Linked DNA regions of Homo sapiens. The protein of the gene in region 2 purifies or fractionates together with the protein of the main gene of each other region. This does not show direct contact. Each region holds a gene or a part of one and is shown on either strand. Other genes may lie near its edges. The genes, in order: PRPF6, SNRPA, NCBP1, HNRNPC, SF3A1, RNPS1 and SNRNP70.

Region 1 (3,500 bases), on a different chromosome or scaffold from region 2:
CAGAGCAAGACCCCGTCTCAAAAAAAAATAAATAAAATTTTTATTAAAAAAGAAAGAATAGAAAGCAGGGTCTCTGACAAATATCTGTACACCCGTATTCACAGCAGCATTATTCACAATAGTCAAAAGGTGAAAGTGGTCCAAGTGTCCGTCAGCGAATAAACAGGTCAGCGAATGCGGTCTACATAGATGAGCGAATGCGGTCCACACACACCAAAGAGTCAAGTCTCATCCTGCCTTAAACTGAGAACATGCTGGCCGGGGCGCCGGGGCTCATGCCTGTAATCCCAGCACTTTGGGAGGCCGAGCCACGTGGATCACTGGAGGTCAGGAGTTCGAGACCAGCCTGGCCAACATGGTGAAATCCCATCTCTAACTAAAAATACAAAAAAATCACACTTCTAATCCCAGCATCCTGGGAGGCTGAGGCGAGTGGATCACGAGGTCAGGAGATCAAGACCATCCTGGCCAACATGATGAAACCCCGTCTCTACTAAAAATACAAAAATTAGCCAGACATGGTGGCACACGCCTATAGTTCCAGCTACTCGGGAGGCTGAGGCAGGAGAATCACCTGAACCCAGGAGGTGGAGGTTGCAGTGAGCCGAGATCACACCACTGCACTCCAGCTCGGGTGACGGTGCCAGGCTCCGTCTCAAAAAAAAAAAAAAAAATTAGCTGGGCTTGGTGGTGCACACCTGTAGTCCCAGCTACTTGGGAGGCTCAGGTGGGAGAATCATTTGAACCCGAGAGGCGGAGGCTGCAGTGAGCCAAGACCATGCCATTGAACTCCAGCCTGGGTGACAGAGAGAGACTCTGTCTCAAAAAAAAAAAAAAAAAAAAGAACATGCTGACGCATGCTGCACCATGAGCTAATTGAAATAAGCCTGTCACAGTAAGGTAAATACTGTATGATTCCAGTCATATAAGATCCAGAGAGTAGTGACATTTATAGAAACAGAGAGAACGGTGGATGCCAGGGGCTGGGGAGAAAGCGCACGGGGACTCAATGTTTAACAGGTACGGAGTTTCAATTTGGGAAGATGAAAACAGTTCTGGAGATGAATGGTGATGAGGTTGTATAACAACATGAACATAATTATGTCAGTGAAGGTATGTACAGTCAAGAATGATTAAAATGGTAAATTCTGTGTTACATATATTTTACCACAAAAAAATTACTGTGACAGTTTTATTTATTTATTGAGACAGTCTCACTCCGTAACCCAGGCTGGTGTGCAGAGGCGCGATCATAGCTCATGGCAGCCTCAAACTCCCTAGCTCAAGCAATCCTTCCACCTCAGCCTCTCGAACAGCTGGGACTACAGGCACCACCAGGCCCAGCTATTTCTTTTAGTTTTTGTAGAGACAGAGTCTCACCATCACCATGTTGCCCAGGCTGGTCTTGAACTCCTGACCTCAAGCAATCCTCCTACCTTGGTCTCTCAAAGTGCTAGGATTACAGGCATGAGTGCCTGGCCCAAAAAGTTTTACAATTTCTATGTAAACAAATTTCAGGCTGGGCATGGTAGTTCACACCTGTAATCCCAGCACTTTGTGAGGCCAGCGCGGACAGATCACTTGTGCCCAGGAGCTCCAGCCCAGGTTGGGCAACCTAGTGACACCCCATCTCAACAAAAAATACAAAAATTAGTTGGGTATGGTGGCACATGCCTGTAATCTCAGCTACTTGGCAGGCTGAGGTGGAAGGATCGCCTTAGCCCAGGGAGGTCAAGGCTGTATGTAGCCAGCCATGATTGTGCCACTTTTTGTTTTTGTTTTTGTTTTTTATTTTGAGACAGTCTCACTCTGTTGCCCAGGCCGGAGTGCACTGGTGCAATCTCGGCTCACTGCAACCTCCAACGCCCGGGTTCAAGCAATTCTCCTGCCTTAGCCTCCCAAGTAGCTGGGATTACAGGCGCCCGCCACCACACCTGGCCAATTTCTGTATTTTTAGTAGAGACGGGGTTTCACCATGTTGGCCAGGCCAAAAGTAGTATGTTCCTTCGTGGTATCTGATATGCATATCAGAAAGAGTTCTGTACTTCACTGGTGTCTAGAGCACCTAGTCTCCAGATCAAAGTACACGTTCCATGCAGGGCCACAAGACAATTTACTGAGAGGCAGGAAAAAAACACACTTTTTAAAAAATTATTATTTTATATTTTAAAAAAAGGCCAAGTGCAGTGGCTCACACCTGTAATCCCCGCATTTTGGGAGGCCAAGGCAGACAGATCACCTGAGGTCAGGAGTTCAAGACCAGCCTGGCCAACATGGTAAAACCCCGTCTCTACAAAAAATACAAAAATTAGCCGGGTGTGGTGGTGGGCACCTGTAATCCCAGCTACTCAGGAGGCTGAGGTAGGAGAATCACTTGAACCCAGGAGGTGGAGGTTGCAGTGAGCCAAGATCACACCATTGCACTCCAGCCTCTGAGTGACACAGCAAGACTCTGGGTCAAAATTTTAAAAATCTGCGGAATTATTCAGGCAAAAATCAAGCCAAAAAAAAAAAAAGGAGAAGGAGAAGAAGGAGGAGGAGGAGAAGGAGGAGAAGAAAAAGGAGAAGAAGAAGAAGGAGAAAAAGAAAACAAAACAAAATTAAACTGTCTAAACCTGTCCACAGGAAAATGCTGTGTGACAAACTCACCTGGCTCAGCCTCATGTCCATCAGAGTGTTCCTCGCTTGGCCAATCTTCCTCATGTCCAGCTCACCTGTGCCAGGTGTCATCAGTCCTGGCGTCATTCCACCTGGGTATGGAGTGTTTAGTCCACCTGGATAGGGTGTGTTAAGACCTCCAAATTGCTGGAGGGGAAGAGAGGAAAGGCAAGAATAAAACAACGGTTTGCACTGCATGCCCAAGAAATTTACTCTCTGAAATACTTCCCCAGTGGCCTGACATATGCACAGCTGTGCAGACAGACTCGGCCACAGCATAGCCATGACCTGCAGAAGCATTGAATCCAACACCACCCACCATTCCTGCCACTGATCTAACAGGACTAAATGGGCCACATGTGCCCTTTTTTGGAAGCTCACAGTTTGTCGGGGATCCACTGAGGTATGGTTCTCTCCGGTCTGTAAATGTTTGGCAAAGAAACTGTCAGGAACAGGGGTCAGCTTCTCATAGCGTGGGTTCCGCTGACGTTTATTTCTGGCATCGCCAACCTCGGGGATGCTCAGCCACTCTTCTTCTGTGACTTCTGCCAACTTCCTCTGGAAATATCCAGCCCCCAAAAACATTAATTCTCTGACAGAATTTCATGTGCCCAGGTAGGACCATGCCCTCTCTCACCCCTAGCCTCCAGATCACCAAGCTTTAGAAGGGATTTGGATGCAGCAACTGTTTTTTACTTTTGTTTTGAGATGGGTCTCATTCTGTTGCCCAGGCTGGATTCAGTGGCACAATCACAGCTCACTGCAGCCTCAACCTCCCAGGCTCAAGTGATCCTCCCACTTCAGCTTCTCAAGTTGCTGGGACCACAAGCGTGGGCCACCAT
Region 2 (3,500 bases):
GAGGCCGAGGCAGGTGGATTACCTGAGCTCAGGAGTTTGCAGCCAGCCTGGGCAACACCGTGAAACCCTGTCTCTACTAAAATACAAAAATTAGCTCGGTGTGGCAGCATGCACCTGTAGTCCCAGCTACTCCTGTGGCTGAGGAAGGAGAATTGCTTGAACCCGGGAGGCAGAGATTGCAGTGAGCCGAGATCCTGCCACTGCACTCCAGCCTAGGCAACAGAGTGAGACTCTGTCTCAGAAAAAATAAATAAATAAATAAATAAATAAATAAATTATTTTGAGACAGAATCTTCCTCTGTTGCCCAGGCTGGAGTGCAGTGGTGCAATCTTGGCTCACTGCAACCTCCACCTCCCGGGTTCAAGTGATTCTCCTGCCTCAGCCTCCTGAGTAGCTGGGATTACAGGCACGTGCCACCATACCTGGCTGATTTTTTTATTTTTAGTAGAGACGGGGTTTCGCCATGTTGCCCAGGCTGGTCTCAAACTCCTGAGCTCAAGTGATCTGCCTGCCTCAGCCTCCCAAAGTGCTAGGATTACAGGCGTGAGCTACTGTGCCACACTAAGAATCTTTAACATACCTTCCCCTACTGAATAAGCACCATGAAAGAGGGGTTTTTGTCTATTTTGTTCATTGCTTTATTCCCAGAGCCTTGAATGGCGCCTGGCATCTGGCAGGTTCTCCTTAAACAGCTAAGTGAGTGAGATTGAACCTGGAAGACTGAAGTATTCTTGTGTGACAGGAAATCCCCCTGCACTGCACTCCTCTCCTAGCATTGTCTCCTCGGTCCTTTGGCCTGATGTTTATTGCTGTTCCAGCTTCCCTTAAAAATACCAACAGCCTTTCTACTGAACACTTGCTTACTGTGTGTCAGGTACTGTTCCAAGCACTTTAACTCATTTAGTCCTCACAACAGTCCTTTGAAGTGGGAAGTATCATAATCCCCATTTTTCAGACAAGGAAGTTAAGGCCAAGATATTTCTGTGTTTCTCAGTAAGCTCCTGATAAGGTCTGAATTTTTTTTTGTTTGTTTGTTTTTTGTTTTTTGTTTTTTGCTCTGTTGCCTGGGCTGGAGTGCAGTGGTGCCATCTCAGCTGACTGCAACCTTCGCCTCCTGGGTTCAAGCGATTCTTCTGCCTCAGCCTCTTGAGTAGCTGGGACTACAGGTGCGCACCACCATGCCCAGCTAATTTTTGTATTTTTGGTAGAAATGGGGTTTCCTGGCCAGGCGCAGTGGCTCATGCCTGTAATCCCAGCACTTTCGGAGGCCGAGGTGGGTGGATCACCTGAGGTCAGGAGTTCGAGACCAGCCTGGCCAACATGGTGAAACCCTGTCTCTACTAAAAGCACAAAAATTAGCCAGGCGTGGTGGTGGGCGCCTGTAATCCCAGCTAGTAGGGAGGCTGAGGCAGAATTGCTTGAACCCGGGAGGCAGAGGTTGCAGTCAGCTGAGATCTCATCACTGCACTCTAGCCTGGGTGACAGAGCAAGACAATGTCTCAAAAAAAAAAAAAAAAGAAAAGAAACAAAGAAATGGGGTTTTGCCATGTTGGCCAAGCTGGTCTCCACCTCCTGGCCTCAAGTGATCTGCTCGCTTTAGCCTCCCAAAGGGCTGGGATTACAGGCATGAGCCGCAGCACCTGGCCCCTGATAAAGGTCCAATTTTGAATCTTGGCAATTGGGCTCTGAATCCACGCTCTTAACCCGTTCTGCTCTCTGTTTGGTAGCGTATCCAGTATGCCAAGACCGACTCAGATATCATTGCCAAGATGAAAGGCACCTTCGTGGAGCGGGACCGCAAGCGGGAGAAGAGGAAGCCCAAGAGCCAGGAGACCCCGGCCACCAAGAAGGCTGTGCAAGGCGGGGGAGCCACCCCCGTGGTGGGGGCTGTCCAGGGGCCTGTCCCGGTAAGCCAGGTCCCGGAGACCAACCCTCCCACTGCCAGACCTTCCTCAGCCACATGGACTGGCTTTGGGACAGGGTGGGGAGAGTTCTCCCCTTGGGGCTTCAGACCCCTCCTTTCCATTTCTTTATAGAGATGTGTTTCTCTCTCTCTTTTGGGGGGTATTGAGCACCTAGATGATGCTATCTCCTTTCGAAACTCTTGTTCCCTCCTTGTGACTGTTTCTCAAGGTCTTTCTTCATGGCTATGACTTGGTTTCGCTCTCTCCGTGGCCTTGATTTTGTCGCCTGTGTCTTGTAACTCATTGTGCATGTAGAAAATCCAAGTGTCTACTAAGCAACTGTTAGGATTAATAAGTGAACTTAAATTTAGAAAGATCGCTGGATATAAAGGCAATATGGAAAAAAATTAGTTTTATTTATTTATTCATATTATGTTTTGAGACAGGGTCTCACTGTCACCCAGGTTGGAGTGCAGTGGCGCCATCACAGCTCACTACAACCTCCGCCTCCCAGGCTCAAGTGATACGCCTCAGCCTCCCTAGCAGCTGGAACTGTCAGTCCGTGCCACTCCACCCAGCTAACTTTTGCATTTTTTGTAGAGACGGGGCTTAGCCATATCACCCAGGCTAGTCTCAAACTCACTGTCTCAGCCTCCCAAAGTGCTAGGATTACATGCATGAGCCACCATGGCTGGCCCCCAGTTTTATTTTTATATGCCAGTAACAGACCAGTAGACTTCACATTGAAAAGTAGCACTGAGGGGTAAATCCAACAAAAGGTTTGCAGAACGACTACACTGAAATCACAGAATGTAGCTGGGAGAAATCAGAGACTCAGCAATGGATAGGAAGACTCAGTATTGTCAAGAGGTCAGTTCCATCCAAATTAATTGAAGATTCAACGTGATTGCAATCAAAATCCCACCAGGAATTTCGGTAAACACTGGACACTGATTGGCTCTTTCTAAATGTGTGGAAAGACAAGGCCAAGCCAGGCGAGGAGAATAAAGCACCAGGACCTGCATGACCAGGGGAAGCTCCAGCAACCAGGCCAGGCCCAATGGCTCATGCCTGTAATCCCAGCACTTTGGGAGGCCAAGATAGGAGGATTGCTTTAGGTCAGGAGTTCAAGACCAGCCTCTATAAAATAGCAAGACCTCATCTCTACAAAAAATAAAATAGAAAACTGGGCGTGGTGACTCATTCCTGTAGTCCCAGCTGCTCAGGAGGCTGAGCTGGGAGGATCGCTTGAGAACTGGAGGTCAAGGCTGCAGTGAACAGTGGTTTTGTCACTGCACTCCAGCCTGGGTAACAGAGTGAGACCTTGTCTCTTTTTTGTTTTGTTTTGTTTTCTTTTGTTTTTTTTCGGGAGGGAGTCTCAGTCAATCTGTCTCCCCAGGCTGGAATGCAGTCGTGCAATCTCGGCTCACTGCAACCTCTGCCTCTCAAGTTCAAGTGATCTTCTGCCTCAGCCTCCCAAGTAGCTGGATCACAGGCACATGCCACCACGTCCATGTGCAAAAAAAAAAAAAAAACCTGCAGCAACCAACCAGGATGATATACAGTTGGCAGAAGGGTAGGAAGACAGACCAAGG
Region 3 (3,500 bases), on a different chromosome or scaffold from region 2:
AATCCTTGAATGGTAACATATTTCACTTTGTATTTACGATGAAGTTTATATTCTTAAGTAAGCTATATCACAGAAATGTTAGGATCTCTTTTTATATAAGGGGAAAATACCTGGGGTGCTAAGAACAACAGTCTGAACAGGTCAAACAGATATAGATATATTGCTTTAAGAGCATCATGTTGCCAGAGTTATGTTTATGCTTTAAGTTGGCCTATACATAGTTCCACTTAAGAAATACTGAATTCCACTTACCGTCGTCATCATCCTGGTTAGGATTTGGTACATCTTTCAGAATGCTGAAGATTTCATCATTGGTTGCCTTACTTTTAAAGGCAACAGCTAAACAGAGGGCAACAGAATGTCCAGGAAGAGAATCTAAACACAGAATTGGGGGTAAGGGGAATGACAGATCAGGTTTCAAGACTATTCTAATGAACAGTTAAATAACTGAGAAAAATTTTTTTTAAATTCTTCCTTTCAAAATAGGATGCTCTTTATCCCAAGGTCAATATTTAATCACATATAAATACCGTATGTGAAAGCTTTTTCTAATAGGTTAATGGTTTTTCACCTAAAAAGGGACAATTCTCATTTCAACAATTCATTAAGGACACTTAGCTAAGTAAAATTTAGAGCACAAGGTGCTGATCATCCTCAAGATGAATGGTAAGGAGAAAAGTGGACACAGTTAAACTGTCTTTTAATGCCCTCAACTCTCCTGGGCTCAAAATCCCAGAACCAACGTACTTCTCTTTCATTTTGCCAACACCCACTTCCTCTTTCTTTCCTCGGGACCGTGGAAATGAAGTCTGAGTCTCAACAAGGTAATGGCTGCCAACTTCAGAGAGGTTTTGTTTTTGTACTTTTCTTTTTTGCTGAGTCCACAAGCTTGAATCTACGTAAGTCAGATGCTCACGTGATGGGACTCCTTGTATTTACTATTGGTTGGTATCAGTTGAGTCCTTATTATAAAAATTTGTGCTAATATACACCGTAAGGCATCACCAGAGCAACAAGAAATCTGCTTTTAATGTAAGGTAGACAAAGAGGTAACAAAAAAGGCAATCCTGTTATAGAGTATGAGTTACTGGAATGAATAAAGTAAATTACAACAGTCATGTGAGGACAGTCATATTACACCTGCTGTGAGCTTTTTCTCTAAAAAAAAGAAGGCGAAGAAAAACAGAATCCCCTGTCACCAGTCTACATTCTAGCTGGGGAACCAAGATATTCACATTAGACACAGCCAGGAAGCAATACAAAACTGGCTTGCTAACGGTTAAAAAATATTTACAGCTATTGAGCTTGGGCTAGAATCTAGAAGGAGAAAAGGAAGTGGAGCTAGAAAGGGCTTTCCAGACTGGGGTAATGGCAAAGTCAAGAACAGGGAGTATGGAAAAAATAAAAAAGTACATGGACCTGGCAGAAATAGAGGTCCATGTGGGGAGAAGTGAAAAATAACAAAGTAGGAACAATGGTTATGAAGGCCTTGAATGTTAGGCGGAGTTATTCCTATGGGGCAAAAAGAAAGCTTAATCTTCAACAAAAGCCTGAGCTTTCTGATAGCAAAGACTACACCTTATCATTCTCGGAACCAGTACAGGACAAAACTCAAAACCCAGCACTTCTAAGTACTGCATAAACCTTTGATCTGCCAAAAAGCACAGTGGCTAACAGCATGGCCACTCAGTTAGTGCACCTACGCCTGAATTTGGGCTCCACCACTCAAAAGCAATCTCATTCTAGCTTGACCTCTTGGAAGTCATTTCCTCATTGTAGTTTTGATAATCATATCTATTCTTCAGAGTTGACATAATGAAATAGGAAATGTACCAGGACCGACACAGTTCATTTCAAGGAAAACAGGTACAGTCAGAGACAGAGGTGGAGAAACAGGCACACAGTATGAAAAGCAAAGAACAGCAGAAAGTTGTGAGATACAAAGAACCTCTACACAACACAAAATGGAAGGATCATGGAGGGGCTGTGTTAAGTGTAATCTGCAAAGAACAAGTTGGAAAAACTCCACACCTAACTCTACCAGTGATCAACAATGTATAATACTTTACCTTCATTAAGTGTAAATACTATGCAAAGGGCAAAATGGCACATCAAATTACACTCCCTGATTTATGGTGCAATTTCAGAGATTATGTGACCAAAAGGTAAGAAAATCATAATTAAGAATTTACTTTTAAAGGCATACTGCCACAAATATGTGCATCTATGTTCTCAATACCACACCTGAACAAGATAATGAATTCAAGTAACCTCCATCACCATGACAAATACACGTTTTCAGTTTAGTAAGTTCTAACTATAAATTCATCTTGCTATACTTAACACATTCAAAAGAGAAAAAATGATAAGCCAGTAGTAATTAATTTTATCACAACCAAATCCTCAAAATGATGACAGGGCAAATAAAACAGTGGCTAATGATAGACCACCTTTCAAATACAGGAAATATAAACCCCAAGAAAAGAAAAAGTTCAATTTCTCCACTTTAAACAACTAACTTCAGATATACTTGAACTGGTACCTTTTAAAGACAGAGGGATTAGTTTCATTACTTACTGCTACTTTCATCTCCATACTTGTAAATGCAGGTTGGGTTTGCAGGACACAGAGCTGAGAAGGTAGGAGGAACAATATCTAATATACGCTGATGGTAAGACAACCTACAATACAAATAACAGCCTCAGAAAATATCTTTTATCAGTCCCATTCTTCGGTAACACCCGACTTACCTGGAAAGTCATGATCTCCAACAACTTGAACTCAGCTGACAACCAAGAAGTGAAAGGGAAAAAAAAATCCTTTGAGTTTTTGTCTAAGCCAGCACACCAAATCTCAGGCATACTGCAAAACTCACTGGCTTGCACTGAGGTGCGGGTGAGTGAGCTCATGAGCCTGGTGGCCAAGTATGTGGGGTGATGATGGGGCATGGTGGAGATGACTGCACGCTTTGGAAACTGGCTATATTCTATCAAATAAATAAATATTGAGGATAATGGAAGCCAAGTTTGTTACTGCCTGAGAAGGTGTTTACAAATCATGGTAGAGAAGAAGTGTAGAAATAAGGTATTGAGTTGGAATTGGAGGCATATATACACACAGGTGGACATAAAAACAGTTATGGATGGATGGATGTGTGTCCACCAAGAGGCTTAGAACCAATGACACCCCAATGGCAATGAGCATATCAAGTGCCCAGATCTTGGCTCCTAAATACCATATTCCATTACTACTTTACTAGAAACTAGGGCTCCATGAATAAATAGATGATTCCAGTGATAGGGCAAGAAAACGCAAGATGATCCTAAATATGTTGTTCTAGAAAATAAGGGAATGCTCAATGAATGGCTGGGGACGTTAAAAAAAAAAAAAAAAATATATATATATATATATATAGAGAGAGAGAGAGAGAGAGAGCTTACCGGGGCTCCTCATGTACATACCAGGGACAATTTGGGCATCAAAATAAATAATCCTCATAG
Region 4 (3,500 bases), on a different chromosome or scaffold from region 2:
GAAAAATAAGGTCATAGACTTAACAGCCAGTAAAATTCTTTTCAGTGTGGGGAAGGGGATGAGGGCAAGGGTGGGGTTGGGAGAGAAAAGGTTTACGTGATCAAACCACTTAAAAATACTAATGCCTTCGCTTTCTCTCCCAAGATGCAAAACTCCAAAGTCAATCAGGAGGCCGGAGAAATTCTTAGAAACATTCAGAAAAACTCGATTTTAATCCGGTTAAAAATCATCAGTGTCATTATCATCATCATCATCACCATCATAAGTATTAATATAATAATAATAAGTAATAGTAACTAGTAACAACAATAAAAAGGAAATCAGCGGAAAGTCAGGAAAAATGTTAAAAAAAAATTGGAATAACTTACTGTAGCTGAAGATCAAAAAAATCTCACTGTAAAAAAACAAAAATAAAAATAGCCCAGATTAGAAAAACGGGAGGTGCAAAAATGTCAAGTCAGTAAAGTTCATTTCTTTTCTCTTTCCAAAAGCAGTTTCCACAAAAACCGCAAGGATAAAGTTTTCAGTAGCAGACAAGCAAAGCCCTTTCCACATCATCAATCAATCTTAAAAATACACGAGGAAGTAGAGAGGTCAGTTTATGAGAGGCTAAAAGGCTCCTCCTCCTCTAACCCAACTGCTGCAGAAAAAATAGAAATAGAAATTTTAAAAATTACATCTTAAATCCAGGTCCCGGTTTTGGAAACAATTAAAAAAAAAACACCTGTACATTTGCTGTAGTGCACACCAAGTTGCATCATTATGTTTAAAATGTCTTTATAAAATCAGTTTTGGAATGGAATGTGTGTGTTCTGGAAGGGTGGGGAAGGGAGGTTAAAAATCAAAGCTGAGCTCCAGTGAGTAGGGATGGGGTTCGCCTTGCTGCCCTGTGAAAGGAGAAGGGACAGATTGAGTCAGAGTTCCTCAGAAATGTTGTGCCCTAAACCCCCAAGACAGAAACATCTGTCTACTGCAGCTAACACATTTTGGTAAAGCATTAACATTCCACTGGGATGGGATAGCCTCCATAGAATCACCTCTACCAGTGACTGTCTTCACAATTCTTCAACATCAATAGATGACTAAAATTAACTAAATTCATGTCAATATGCCCTTGAGGGTCTCAAAAAGAGTATATCCCAAATGTTCATCTTGATAATGAGCAGTTTGGGCAAAGAAAATACAGAAAAACCGGGCCAACAAATAGAGATGAAATAGTGAGCAAATGTCAAATACTGAGATTATAAAACCTAAGCAGATTCATGGGTTTTAAACTTAAAAAAGTCCGTGGAGTTTTTGCTATGAGTAATAGACTGAAGGTGAATGGCCTACCATGAAGATCTATACTAGAGATGACTCATCTATTCTCAAAACCAGTGAGTGATCAAACCACAAGACCTAATAGGTTCTACTGTTAGGGGAAAAGATGTTTTAAATAAGGAGCACATTATTCCACTCACTGACAAAACGAAAATACAGATGGAATTAAAAAAATACTGAATATTTAAGGTCATAAAATAGGTGAAAAAAATTAAGGTCCTTATGTTAATACTTTTGTTTCTGTAGTCCACTATTTACTATGTAGCGTGTAAAGCTAATTTCAAGTTATGGATTCTAAAAATCTGGTACATAATACCACACTAAAATAATTTCCATGACAAACTGGTTGTTTCATCAGCTAAAATAGGAACTGCAATTAGACTGTAGTTCCTTGTGCAAACAATGAACTAGCTGCACTCACTGTTCAATTTAGCCATGAGGTCTTATTCTCCTTTGTAAATTTGAGGAAATTAAAATATTTTAAGGCCAAGTGTGGTGGCTCACACCTGTAATCCCAACACTTTGGGAGGCCAGGGTAGAGCACGGCTTGAGCTCAGTAGTTTGAGACCAGCCTGGGAAACATGACGAGACTTTATTAAAAACAAAAAACATTAGCAGGGTGTGGTAGCCTGAAATCCCAGCTACTTAGCAGTCTGAGGAGCGAGGATCACTTGAGCCCAGGAGTTCGAGGCTGCAGTGAGCTCTGATCACGCCACTGCACTTCAGCCAGGCCAGAGAGAGACCCTGTCTCAAAAAAAAAATTTTTAATTGAGCTTTTAGAAGTGTTCCTTGAGCCAACTATACATGAATGACTACAGCAGCAACAAGTACCATACATTTTTAAAAAGAACAGTGTAGGAATGACAGTTAATTTTTACATTTGATGTGTGAAAACTGTATGAATGTACAAATTGCGGAAAAAGTTTGTGAAGAATTGTAAGAAATATACATCTGAATGTTCTTTTCCTGTTTATGAAATACAGTTATGGTGAAACATTTCATTTTCTTATTTGGAGCCACAGCCCAAACCTGGTAATCAATTTTCAAGATACATAACTTTATAGCTCAACCACAACCAAGTCCTTTGTACAGGTGCCACAAGACATAAGCTTAAAAATAAAGAAAAATGTGAAAAGAAACCAATTCTATCTTTCAATATCAAAAAGCTCAGTATCTCCCAAGATGTTATTTATGTTAAACTGAAGAGCTACCACTCATAAAAAGACCAACTTTAGCACCATTTTCAATCAAGAATATTCCTTGAGGCCAGGCGGCGTGGCTCACACCTGTAATCCCAGCACTCTGGGAGGCTTGGGGCGGGTGGATCACCTGAGCTCAGGAATTCAAGGCCAGCCTGGCAACATGGCGAAACCCTGCCTCTACCAAAAATACAAAAAATTAGCAGCACTACTCAGCAGGCTGAGGGCACCCCTTGAGCCCGGGAGGCAGAGGGTGCAGTGAGCTGAGATGACACTACTGCACTCTAATCTGGGTGACAGTGTGAGGCTCTCAAAGAAAAAAAGTATCCTTACCTAAAGCTCAGAGATAGTTTTAGAAAAAAAGTATCTCTAGGTTATTCTTTGTCAAAACCTGCCTGAGGTTTGGATCCCTTCTTCTAAAGGGGCACCTCTCAGAATGAGTGATGCATGAGCATCATCACCTGGAACTTACTAGAAGTGCAAACTCTCAGGGCCCACCCCAGACTTACTTAATTAGAAACCCTTGTGGTAGAGATCATAGCAATCTGTTTTAACTAGCCCTATTGATTCTGGTGTTGGCTAACGTTTGAGAACCACTGTGAAGATTTTAAATTGGGAATCTCTCTATTCCCCAGTTTAGAATCAATTATTATCATTTTTTTGAGATGGGGTCTCACTCTGTCGCCCAGGCTGGAGTGCAGTGGTGCGATGGCTCACTGCAACCTCCACCTCCCAGGTTCAAGCGATTCTCCTGCCTCAGCCTCCCGAGTAGCTGGGACTACAGGCGAGCGCCAGCACGCCAAGCTAATTTTATTTTCAGTAGAGATGGGGGTTTCACCATGTTGGCCAGGCTGGTCTCAAACTCCTGACCTCGTGATCCACCCGCCTCAGCCTCCCAAAGTGCTGGGATTACAGGCATGAGCAGCCACACCCGGCCTTAGAATCAATTCTTTAAACAAAATGCCTGACCTTCCAGTGTAC
Region 5 (3,500 bases), on a different chromosome or scaffold from region 2:
TAACTTGAGCCCAGGAGTTCAAGGCTGCAGTGAGCTGTTATCATGCCACTGCACTCCTGCCTGCGTGTCAGAACGAGACTCTGTCTCTAAAAAAGAAATGTTGGAAACCTCCTCCTCTAAGGAAAATACAGAAATGGTGGCCAAGTCAAGGAAAGCCTTTCACCTCTACATGGTGCATCCCCTTAATAAAGGACCACAGGGCATTATGAAGACCATGGAGCAAAATGGAAAAATGCTTACAACACAGAGTGGAATATCTTTACTAGTATTACAAGGATCTAAAAAAAGGATTCCAAGGACAGAAGGAAACAGAAAAATGTGAAAACAGCTGGTAGACACTACTCTGGTAATGAGAATATGGTGATTCTTCACCCAACTCCCCTTTTCTGTATATTCTGTTTTTAAAGTATCAGGGGAAAAGGGGAGGCATGAACACTGCTAAGAGCCATTAAACATTTATCTTAAACACAACACTGTCTAAATCTGACATGACCCAATCAACATCATCACAATGTTCAATCAAGCACAGAGAAGCTTTCAACCTAATACTCAAAGGTAATCAAAGCCCTTGAAATGTAATGAGATGAATCTGCAGAGCTGACATAGTGAAAGTCTAACCAAAGTAGGCTGGTGCCGTGGCTCACGCCTGTAATCCCAGCACTTTGGGAGGCCCAGGTCGGGGGATCATTAAGTCAAGAGACTGAGACCAGCCTGGCCAACACGGTGAAACCACGTCTCTACTAAAAATACAAAAATTACCTGGGCGTGGTGGCGCACGCCTGTTGTCCCAGCTACTCGGGAGGCTGAGGCAGGAGAATCACTTGAACCCAGGAGGCAGAGGTTGCAGTGAGTTGAGACTGCACCACTGCACTCCAGCCTGGCAACAGAGTGAGACTCCATGTCATTTAAAAAAAAAAAAAAGAAAGTCTAACCAAAGTAATCTTTATGTCTAATTTTATTAGGTTGGGAAAGGAAGGACCATCCGTTAAATGATGCATACTGACTGAGACACTGCCTCAGGGGGGTGACGTGGTCCCTGGAGAACACATGCTGATTGGGCCTGCTTCCACACATGAAGGAACTGTCCAGAAATCCAGACTGATTGTGAAATCTCATTTTTACTTGTTTTGTTTTTTTTGAGACAGGGTCTCACTGTCACCCAGGCTAGAGTCCATGGCTCACTATAGCTTCAACCTTCTGGGCCCAACCGATCCTCTTGCCTCAGCCTCCTAAGTAGCTGGGATCACAGGCCCATGCCACCACAGCCAGATAACTTTTTATTTTTTGTAGACAGGGTCTCACTATGTTGCCCAGGCTAGTCTCAAATTCCTGAGTTCAAGTGATCTTCCCACCTTGGGCTCCCAAAGTGCTAGGATTACAAGCAAGAGCCACAGCACCTGACCTCCTCATTTTTAAATAGTAGCAACAAATTTGAGTTTCGAAAAAATTACTGTGAGGACAAACAAAACATCTGTAGGCTGGACATGGACTGAGGGCTGCCAAAGGAATACCTTAAATACCCTAGAGAATGTACTGACCTTTGGAGTCAAGGGGCCAGTAAAAAAATTCCATCTAAGGATGTGAGGGTAAGTACAGTGGGGAGAGACAGGGGGAACTCGGAGCAATTCCCATTCCATCTGAGGTGGCGGCTAGCACCTGCGTGGAACTGTGGGGAGAGACAGGAGGAACCCGGAGCAATTCCCATTCCATCTGAGGTGGCGGCTAGCACCTGCATGGAACTGTAGGAAGAGAGAGGATCTCTGACCAATGCCCATTCCATCTGAGAAGCCAGCTAGCACCTGCACAGGACTGTGGGGAGAGACAGGAGGAACTCAGAGCAATACCCATTCCATCTGAGGAGACGGCTAGCACCTGCATGGAACTGTGGGGAGAGAGAGGATCTCTGACCAATGCCCATTCCATCTGAGAAGCCAGCTAGCACCTGCACAGAACTGTGGGGAGAGACAGGAGGAACTCGGAACAATGCCCATTCTATCTGAGGTGGCGGCTAGCACCTGCATGGAACTGTGAGGAGAGACAGGAGGAACTCGGAGCAATGCCCATGCCATCTGAGGAGGTGACTAGCACCCGCGTGGAACTGAACTGCATGCAGCCCCATGACCTCACTCCCGCCTCACAACAACTCTGAGATGGCATTTTTTCCATTTTGCAGATGGGTCATTTGAGGCTCTTGGAATGTGGTCTTTGTACAATGAGAATAATAAACTCCCCTTTTTATCTTCCTCAGGCCAGCAGCTCAGGCACAGACACACACCATCTGTGATGAAGCAGCTTTCCAGGCATTTCCTCAGGCCAGTTTTAGAAGCAGAGGCTCCTGGTGACTGTGGGGCTAAGTGTGATTCTCACTTTGGCCACTGCTATGCTGTGTCAGGGACACCAGTCCTACCTATTGCCTACCCCAGTGCCATGTTGTGGTTTTTTATGAACTAAAAGGCCCAAGCCAACAACGTCTCTTTAAAAACCCTTGTGCTGATTCAGTGCTGAAGTCTCTTCATGCTGAAACCCACCTCTGACCCACCCAAGTAGCTCTGTTACCTGGCCACAAAGCTGGCAGTCTTGTCAACAATATTTCTGACCTCTGGAGGAGGGTAAATAATCCCCACAACTGGCTTAGAAGGTGCAGAATCCTCCTTTGAAGATGCTTCTTCTTCTGTGGGCTGTGCAAACAGGAAAAGAAATAAGGTTTTAAAGTCCCTGGTTCAGAGCAGGTTCTCCACTGTAAAACTCCTCTAGGATATCATTCAGAGTAGACTTTCATTCACAGACTTCCCTCAGGTTAGAACCCTCTACTTCAGAAAAGCAGTTCTCTTAAGTTCACTGCACCTGCAGGGGCTGCTCCTGGGGACCCAGGGAGAAGAGCAGCTTCCCTGGCTCCTCTCTCACTGGACTATCTCAGTGAGACCAGGAATCTGCATTTTTACTATGGTATGAGACCAGCACTTCTCCTGTTGTCCTTCCCAGTTTCTCCCCAACCTCCCCTTTTCCCTAGTTTATAAGACAGGAGAAAAGGGAGAAAGCAAAAAGTTGGAAAGAAACAGAAGTAAGATAAATAGCTAGACGACCTTGGTGCCACCACCTGGCCCTGGTGGTTAAAATAATAATAATATTAACCCCTGACCAAAACTACTGGTGTTATCTGTAAATTCCAGACATTGTATGAGAAAGCACTGTAAAACTTTTTGTTCTGTTAGCTGATGTATGTAGCCCCCAGTCACGTTCCTCACGCTTACTTGATCTATTATGACTCTTTCACATAGACCTTTAGAGTTGTAAGCCCTTTAAAGGGCTAGGAATTTCTTTTTCGGGGAGCTCGGCTCTTAAGACACGAGTCTGCCGACGCTCCCGGATGAATAAAAAACCTCTTCCTTCTTTAATCCGGTGTCTGAGGAGTTTTGTCTGCGACTCGTCCTGCTACATTACCAAATGCCCAGGTGATTCAGATGCAGGGACTCCGACTACATTCTGAGAAACCATGTTCC
Region 6 (2,753 bases), on a different chromosome or scaffold from region 2:
GCTGTGTTGGTGCAACTCTAGGGCGTCTCCTGCCTGTGGCTTACTGCAGCTGTGGCCCTCCTGCTCTCTCCATGAGCTCTGAAGGGCTCCTGCTCTCTGCCAGCCCGCACAGCAGTGGAAGGCAGGCAGGGCTGAATAAAGGGTCTGAAAGTCACTGCGGTCACATGAGGTTTGTGGCCTGATCAGTCCACTGAAACTACAAATTGTTTACCTTCTCCTCATCCGTGGGGGAGACCTGCGCCACATAGGCGGTGGTGGCAACATTCTCCTGGGAGGGCTGAATCTCCTGGGGGGTGGCCTAGGCCAGGGGGCCAGCACGGCGGTGGCAGTGATCTCCTGGCCATCAATTTGTCCTGTTGAAAAAGACAGCAAGTCATAAAATATCTAACAAGCATCTACCCTAGACAATGCATGCCACAGTGAAAGACAGGCCTGGGGGGACAATGACAATGTAAGATAATCACAGAAACAGGGCCGGGCATGGTGGCTCACTCCTGTAATCCCAGCACTTTGGGAAGCTGAGGCAGGTGGATCACGAGGTCAGGAGATCGAGACCATCCTGGCTAACATGGTGAAAATGTCTCTACTAAAAAGACAATAAATCAGCTGTGCGAGGTGGCGGGCGCCTATAGTACCAGCTACTCGGGAGGCTGAGGCAGGAGAATGGCGTGAACCCGGGAGGCAGAGGCTGCAGTAAGCAGAGATCGTGCCACTACACTCCAGCCTGGGTAACAAGAGCGAAACTCCGTCTCAAAAAAAAAAAGATAATCACAGAAATAACATCATGACTAATGTTTCATGAGGAAAAGAGGCATAAAAACTAACAGGACACACCAATCTCCACGTGTCGAGGCAGCCTCCCAGGTCAAGAGTCATCCAAGTCAAGAGCTAAAGAATGTGCTGGAGGCCAGACGCGGAGGCTCACGCCTGTAATCCCAGTGCTCTGGGAAGCCAGGCAGGCGGATCACAATGTCAGGAGTTCGAGACCAGCCTGGCTAACATGGTGAAACCCCATCTCTACTAAAAATACAAAAATTAGCCGGGCGTGGTGGCGTGTGCCTGTAATCGCAGCTACTCGGGAGGCTGAGGCAAAACAATCTCTTGAACCCAGGAGGAGGAGGTTGCAGTGAGCTGACATCATGCCACGGCACTCTAGCCTGGGCAACAACTGAGACTCCGTCTCAAGAAAAAAAAAAGAAAAGTAAAGAATGTGCTGGAATCTGCTAGGTGGAAGAGAAGGGCTATGCTGGGCCCTGTGCTGGGAAGGACCCAAAGCACTGGTGAGAGAAGGTAGCATCGAGAGCGAGTGACAGGCAAACAGAAGGCCCCAGGGCCAGGGTGGGGCTTCCTCGCAGGACCATGCAGGCAGTATCCGCGTTTGCGCTTCCTTCTCCTCCAACCAAGGGAAGCTGGGTCTGGGGCTAAGAGAAGTGGGAGAAGTTCTCTTAGGAGGGCTCTGCAGCACTGAGAGGGGCCTGAATCAACATCAAATGATTTGGCAGGGAAACGGAAGGATTCAGGGGACAGCTGGGAAGTAAAATTGCCAGAGCTTGGTGATGGATGGGATGGGGGTGGTGAGGTGTGAACTTCCACTGACGGAGAGGTGGGGCTGCGGTGGGAAGCTGCATGAAGGAAATTTTAGGAGATGCCAAAGACTTTGTGTTTGGAAACAAGCAGTCTCAGAGAGGTGGCTCTGCATGTAGATGGCACTGAAACACACGCCATGTGCATGAAGCGAGGAGAGGCAGTGTGGGATGTGGGCTCCAGGGAGAGAGGAAAGGAAATAGAGGTGCAAACCCAGGAACCCCAGGGGAGCATGCACCCCGACCTCAAGAATTGTCTGGTAGCTGGGGATACTGGGAGCCCAAGCGCAGCCCCTTCTGTGCCCTAAGGGGTAAAGGGCTCTTTTGTTTTCTCAACTACCTTTAAGGCACATGGGGACTAACTCCGGCATGTGGCTATGTATTCAGAACATACTTAAGAGGTTTAACTTCAGTAAACTCAGCCTAAGTTAGCCCAAATTAGGGATTTCACAGCACTGACTCTATAATAATGAAGAAAAATCCATCTTCTGTGTAGCTGCCAGTAAAGGCCAACCCCTTCTCATCTCCTATGGAGACAGCATGGACTCACTCCATTCAAAGACAGAAGGGGAGACACACAAAAAAAATCCTACCAGAATCTTACGAAAAGTTGGAATGTCTGTAATCACGCCCACCCAGAAGGTACCCGGGTCCCCTGGGTTTTTAGCTCAGCAAGCACTCAGACTGTCAAACAGCAGATAATCAGCAGACTCCACAGCAAAGGTGTGACTTACAAGGCCAACAGCTGATGTGAGCGCACAGAGCTCCTAACCCATTTCAGGACTTAAGAAACTTGAAAGAAAAGTTAGCCAAATATCAAGGAAACTTTCCTAATGCCTGAAGGGCAATTACTGAAAAAAACCAGCTAAGCTACTTATACAGTTTGTAACAGGGCCTCGGAAGACGGAAAGTTCTGGGGCACGCACACTCCACTCCCCACCAGGCCTGGCAGCCCAGACAGCACTGTGGGCTGTGTTCTCAGTGCCAGCGGCCTCAGTCACAGCAGCAGGGAGTGGAGCAGAGATGACTCCACATGCCTCAAAATGCTGCACTGAGGACAAAATGCCACCCGAAACTATTCACAAGGGTCCATGTGCTTTTAAAACCATTCTGCCAGATACAAATAGCTATAAACGTCATGAGTGGTTATGAGATACAAGTGTTTAAGAA
Region 7 (3,327 bases), 8.3 Mb from region 2:
TGAAATCTCAATTGCTGGTGGAACCTCTTCTGTGTTTCTGCTCGTTGCTCCTCTGTCACTACTTATTATGATGTGGGTCCACCCTTCCTGCTCTGCCCCGTCTCACCCGTGCCCAGTGTATTCTGCCTTTCCTCACCCTGTGTGCCGCTCTCCCTTGCAGATGGTAGCTTCCCTTGCATATTCAAAACTGCGGCTTCCCCTGAGTAATCAAGCCCCCTCCTAATTCCCAGCCCCCCACCAAGACAGGGGTATGGTCAGCCCTGAGGAATGTGTGGCAGAGATGAAAAAGAAAAAAGGGTGAAAAACACAAGGGAGACAAGGAGCCCGAGAGGCCGCCTCACCCCACTTTCAACAGCTCTGGCTACTGGGCAGAGCCAGCCTCATGTCCTAACGCTCAAGTTTTAAGTACACCCTGGAAACCAAACCAAGCAGGGCTATCAAGTCAGGAACAACCTTCTGGGGAAAACAGAGCAGTGAGGAAGAAACCGAGGTGCCCACTATCAACAGGAAATTAATTTTATTTTTAAATCCAAGGGGCCAGAACAAATGAGACACCTACCCTTGGAGGACAAACTCAAGTGGCCAAGGTTGGGGGAGGGGATGACAGCAAGGGGCTGGGCAGGAACGCGTCCAAACACAGCAGATGGAGAGGACGACCTCTTCACTCCGGCGCAGCCTCCATCAAATACCCATTCTCCGGAGCCAGGTAGCCGTCGCCGCCCTCAGACTCCATGTACATGTCTCGGCTGTCGTTGCCCAGACCCTCCAGCCCGTTGTCCTGGCCACCGCCCCCACCTCGGGCCTCATCCCTGCCCCGCTCACTGCCCCGCTCCCCCCGTTTGTGCTCGCGGTCACGGTCACGGTCACGATCCCGGTCCCGGCGCCGCTCGCGCTCGCTCCGGTGGCTCCGCCGTCGCTCCCGGTCACGATCCCGGCCCTTTTCCTCTGGACCGTCAGGGCCGTCAGGCCCGAGCTCCCCTGGAGGCCCATCATCAGGGGGCGCGTCACCCGCCTCGGAGGGCTCCGCCATGTCGCCACCGCCGCCACGCAGCTCCTCCTTGCGCTCCCGCTCCCGCCGGGCCCGCTCCCGACTCCGGCTGCTTCGCCGCTTCCGGTCCCGGTCCTTGTCCTTGCTCCGCTCCCTGGAGCGCCTCCGCTCCTCCTTGTCGCGACTCCGTGAGCGCCTCCGCCGGTCCCGGGAGCGGGAGCGTCGCCGTTCTCGCTCCTTGTCTCGCTCCCGGCTCCGCTCTCTGCGCTCCCGCTCACGGTCCCGGTCCCGGTCCCTGTGCGGAAGCGGGGAGGGGCCGGGCCTGGATGAGGTGGGCAGACCTGTGTGGCTGGGCTCCCCCCGTGACCGCCCCCCACCCCAGGACACCGGTCGCCCAATCTTACCTCTCATCGTAGCGGGAGGTGTCATCGCGGCCTGAATGCCGGATGTTCACATCAGCCCCTCCTCTTCTGGTACCACCGAGGCCTCCTCCTGGGGCAGGGCAGACGGACAGAGGGTGAATCTGGGCAGGGACAGGGCCCGGAGGAGCAGAAATGAGCCGACTCCAAGAGCAAAGGGCAGGAAGGCAGCCCCTGGCTTAGTGTTCACAGGGCCGGGTCCCCCCGTGCAGTTCATCCCGCGCACTCCCATCACAAGACAGCCACGTCTTCTCTAATTAACTCACACAAAGCGTTCGCTAGGCAACAGCCGTTACTGGAACCCATGTCTGGCCCCAAAGCGCATCATCTTAACCATAGCGCACTTCACAGCCTCCTCAAAACCCTCCCTTCCAATCATCCTCGCCCTCACAGAAACCCGAAGCCAATGATCTTTCCACCCAAAAATGTGATCTGCTTAGAAGCCTTTGCTGGCGTCCCCCAGCCTAAGGTCCAAACTCCTCGTCAACTGGTGGTAGAGGCAGCAAGAGCGGGCCCTGCTAGCGTCTGAGCCGCGGCTCTTGGCTGCGTGTCCCAGGCCTTTCCCAGTGTCCCCACGCTCACCTTCCTGCCAGTGTCTGTGCATTCTCCTTGCCCTGGACTGGTCTCCCCTTCCTTCTCTGGTGAACTCACGCTCACCCTTAACGCTAGCCCGAACATCCTTTCTCGGGAAGTCTCTCCTCACAGTCCTATGTACTCACAGTTGCAGAAACGCTTCCTTCCCCTGGAGTTTCAGGTTTGCTACCTGAGTCGACCCCTACCTGCCTCTCCCACCAGACTGCAGGGCACCGGAACCGTGGGCATGCCCAGCTCTTGCTCACGGTACCAGCAGGTGGCGCTGCAGCTGGTATAGAAAGGTGGATGTGTGTGTGTCAAGTGAATAGATAGATGAACAGCCCCAAGGCACAGATGATAACCTCATGGTTCTGATGGGGAAACAATCTCAGATCAAGTCACTGGCCCACAGTGACTCAGCAAAGAAGGTGCAGAACTGGGCTGTCACTGCCGTCTGCTGCAAAACCTGCCTTCTCAAGCGCTCCTCTATCTCGCACTGCCTGGAAAAGCTTCCGTGAGGCAGGGCTGAGTTCTGTATAGAAAAGAGGCTGCAGGGAGACATTCTTATAGAAGCAGGCAGCGGACCAGGCACCTGCCATGTCACAGGCACAGGGCAGCTAGACTAGCCTTTCCTATATTCAGGTCATGACCCAGAAATGAGTCCCATCATCAATCTGATGGGTTGCAACCAACATCTTAAGAAACAAAACAGCAGAATACAACTATATACTTACTACATAGAAAAAACTGTTTCCTCAAACTTTAGGTTACAGTATTTCTGCGGGTGCACCGAGTCAAGATGTTATTGGCTAACACCAACAAAAAGTTTGAATGGCAATTGAACTAGAAGATTCTGAGATTCTGGAAAGACTGAGATTCTAGCATTTTCCCGCCCCAACAGGAAACAGCAGAGCTATAAGAACCCACTCCACCCCAGAGAGACCAGAGTAAGGTAAGAACATGCCTGGTAAGCTCCGAGGCTCAGCAGCTGAGAGCGTGGTCTCCCTAGCACAGGCGAGTCCAGAGCCAGGACACAGGGCTGGGAGGCAGGACAGGAGCCCCAAGTGGCTACTACTGCCTGGGTGTCTGCCCAGGGACCATCATCTTCTCTGACAACTGTCACTCAGCTTTGCAGGATTCAGTCCTCAATAAGCATGCCTGAGCAACAGGACCCCAGGCCCAACACTGAGTCAATCAAATGTGCCCACCCCGAAACAAGAGACTCATCCAGGACTGAGTGTAAAGCTGGGGCCTGTGGCCTGCTGCGCTGGGCCAGTGCAAAGAGGCATGGGACCGACCTAGCTGCATGGAGGCAAACGAGGCAGAAGCAAGCTGTGGGCTGTCACA

Evidence for each region.
Region 1: the proteins of SNRPA (region 2) and PRPF6 purify together in Homo sapiens (affinity purification with mass spectrometry; 2 studies listed by BioGRID and IntAct, with this or other methods). This does not show direct contact.
Region 3: the proteins of SNRPA (region 2) and NCBP1 purify together in Homo sapiens (co-immunoprecipitation; 2 studies listed by BioGRID and IntAct, with this or other methods). This does not show direct contact.
Region 4: the proteins of SNRPA (region 2) and HNRNPC purify together in Homo sapiens (affinity purification with mass spectrometry; 2 studies listed by BioGRID and IntAct, with this or other methods). This does not show direct contact.
Region 5: the proteins of SNRPA (region 2) and SF3A1 fractionate together in Homo sapiens (co-fractionation; 3 studies listed by BioGRID and IntAct, with this or other methods). This does not show direct contact.
Region 6: the proteins of SNRPA (region 2) and RNPS1 purify together in Homo sapiens (co-immunoprecipitation; 4 studies listed by BioGRID and IntAct, with this or other methods). This does not show direct contact.
Region 7: the proteins of SNRPA (region 2) and SNRNP70 purify together in Homo sapiens (affinity purification with mass spectrometry; 5 studies listed by BioGRID and IntAct, with this or other methods). This does not show direct contact.

What each region holds. Positions count from the first base shown.
Region 1 is NC_000020.11:63,994,632-63,998,131, reverse strand, and holds part of PRPF6 (pre-mRNA-processing factor 6), read right to left. Parts: intron 3,217-3,500; coding exon 3,040-3,216; intron 2,806-3,039; coding exon 2,650-2,805; intron 1-2,649. UniProt on the Homo sapiens protein: Involved in pre-mRNA splicing as component of the U4/U6-U5 tri-snRNP complex, one of the building blocks of the spliceosome.
Region 2 is NC_000019.10:40,757,703-40,761,202, forward strand, and holds part of SNRPA (U1 small nuclear ribonucleoprotein A), read left to right. Parts: intron 1-1,728; coding exon 1,729-1,908; intron 1,909-3,500. UniProt on the Homo sapiens protein: Component of the spliceosomal U1 snRNP, which is essential for recognition of the pre-mRNA 5' splice-site and the subsequent assembly of the spliceosome. U1 snRNP is the first snRNP to interact with pre-mRNA.
Region 3 is NC_000009.12:97,657,821-97,661,320, reverse strand, and holds part of NCBP1 (nuclear cap-binding protein subunit 1), read right to left. Parts: intron 2,682-3,500; coding exon 2,578-2,681; intron 376-2,577; coding exon 253-375; intron 1-252. UniProt on the Homo sapiens protein: Component of the cap-binding complex (CBC), which binds cotranscriptionally to the 5'-cap of pre-mRNAs and is involved in various processes such as pre-mRNA splicing, translation regulation, nonsense-mediated mRNA decay, RNA-mediated gene silencing (RNAi) by microRNAs (miRNAs) and mRNA export.
Region 4 is NC_000014.9:21,262,943-21,266,442, forward strand, and holds part of HNRNPC (heterogeneous nuclear ribonucleoproteins C1/C2), read right to left. Parts: exon of another isoform or gene 3,451-3,500; intron 2,607-3,450; exon of another isoform or gene 395-2,606; 5' UTR 369-394; exon of another isoform or gene 1-368. UniProt on the Homo sapiens protein: Binds pre-mRNA and nucleates the assembly of 40S hnRNP particles. Interacts with poly-U tracts in the 3'-UTR or 5'-UTR of mRNA and modulates the stability and the level of translation of bound mRNA molecules. Single HNRNPC tetramers bind 230-240 nucleotides.
Region 5 is NC_000022.11:30,350,395-30,353,894, forward strand, and holds part of SF3A1 (splicing factor 3A subunit 1), read right to left. Parts: intron 2,679-3,500; coding exon 2,557-2,678; intron 1-2,556. UniProt on the Homo sapiens protein: Component of the 17S U2 SnRNP complex of the spliceosome, a large ribonucleoprotein complex that removes introns from transcribed pre-mRNAs.
Region 6 is NC_000016.10:2,255,374-2,258,126, forward strand, and holds part of RNPS1 (RNA-binding protein with serine-rich domain 1), read right to left. Parts: intron 354-2,753; coding exon 212-353; intron 1-211. UniProt on the Homo sapiens protein: Part of pre- and post-splicing multiprotein mRNP complexes. Auxiliary component of the splicing-dependent multiprotein exon junction complex (EJC) deposited at splice junction on mRNAs.
Region 7 is NC_000019.10:49,105,778-49,109,104, reverse strand, and holds the end of SNRNP70 (U1 small nuclear ribonucleoprotein 70 kDa), read right to left. Parts: intron 1,481-3,327; coding exon 1,393-1,480; intron 1,311-1,392; coding exon 662-1,310; 3' UTR 501-661; downstream 1-500. UniProt on the Homo sapiens protein: Component of the spliceosomal U1 snRNP, which is essential for recognition of the pre-mRNA 5' splice-site and the subsequent assembly of the spliceosome. SNRNP70 binds to the loop I region of U1-snRNA.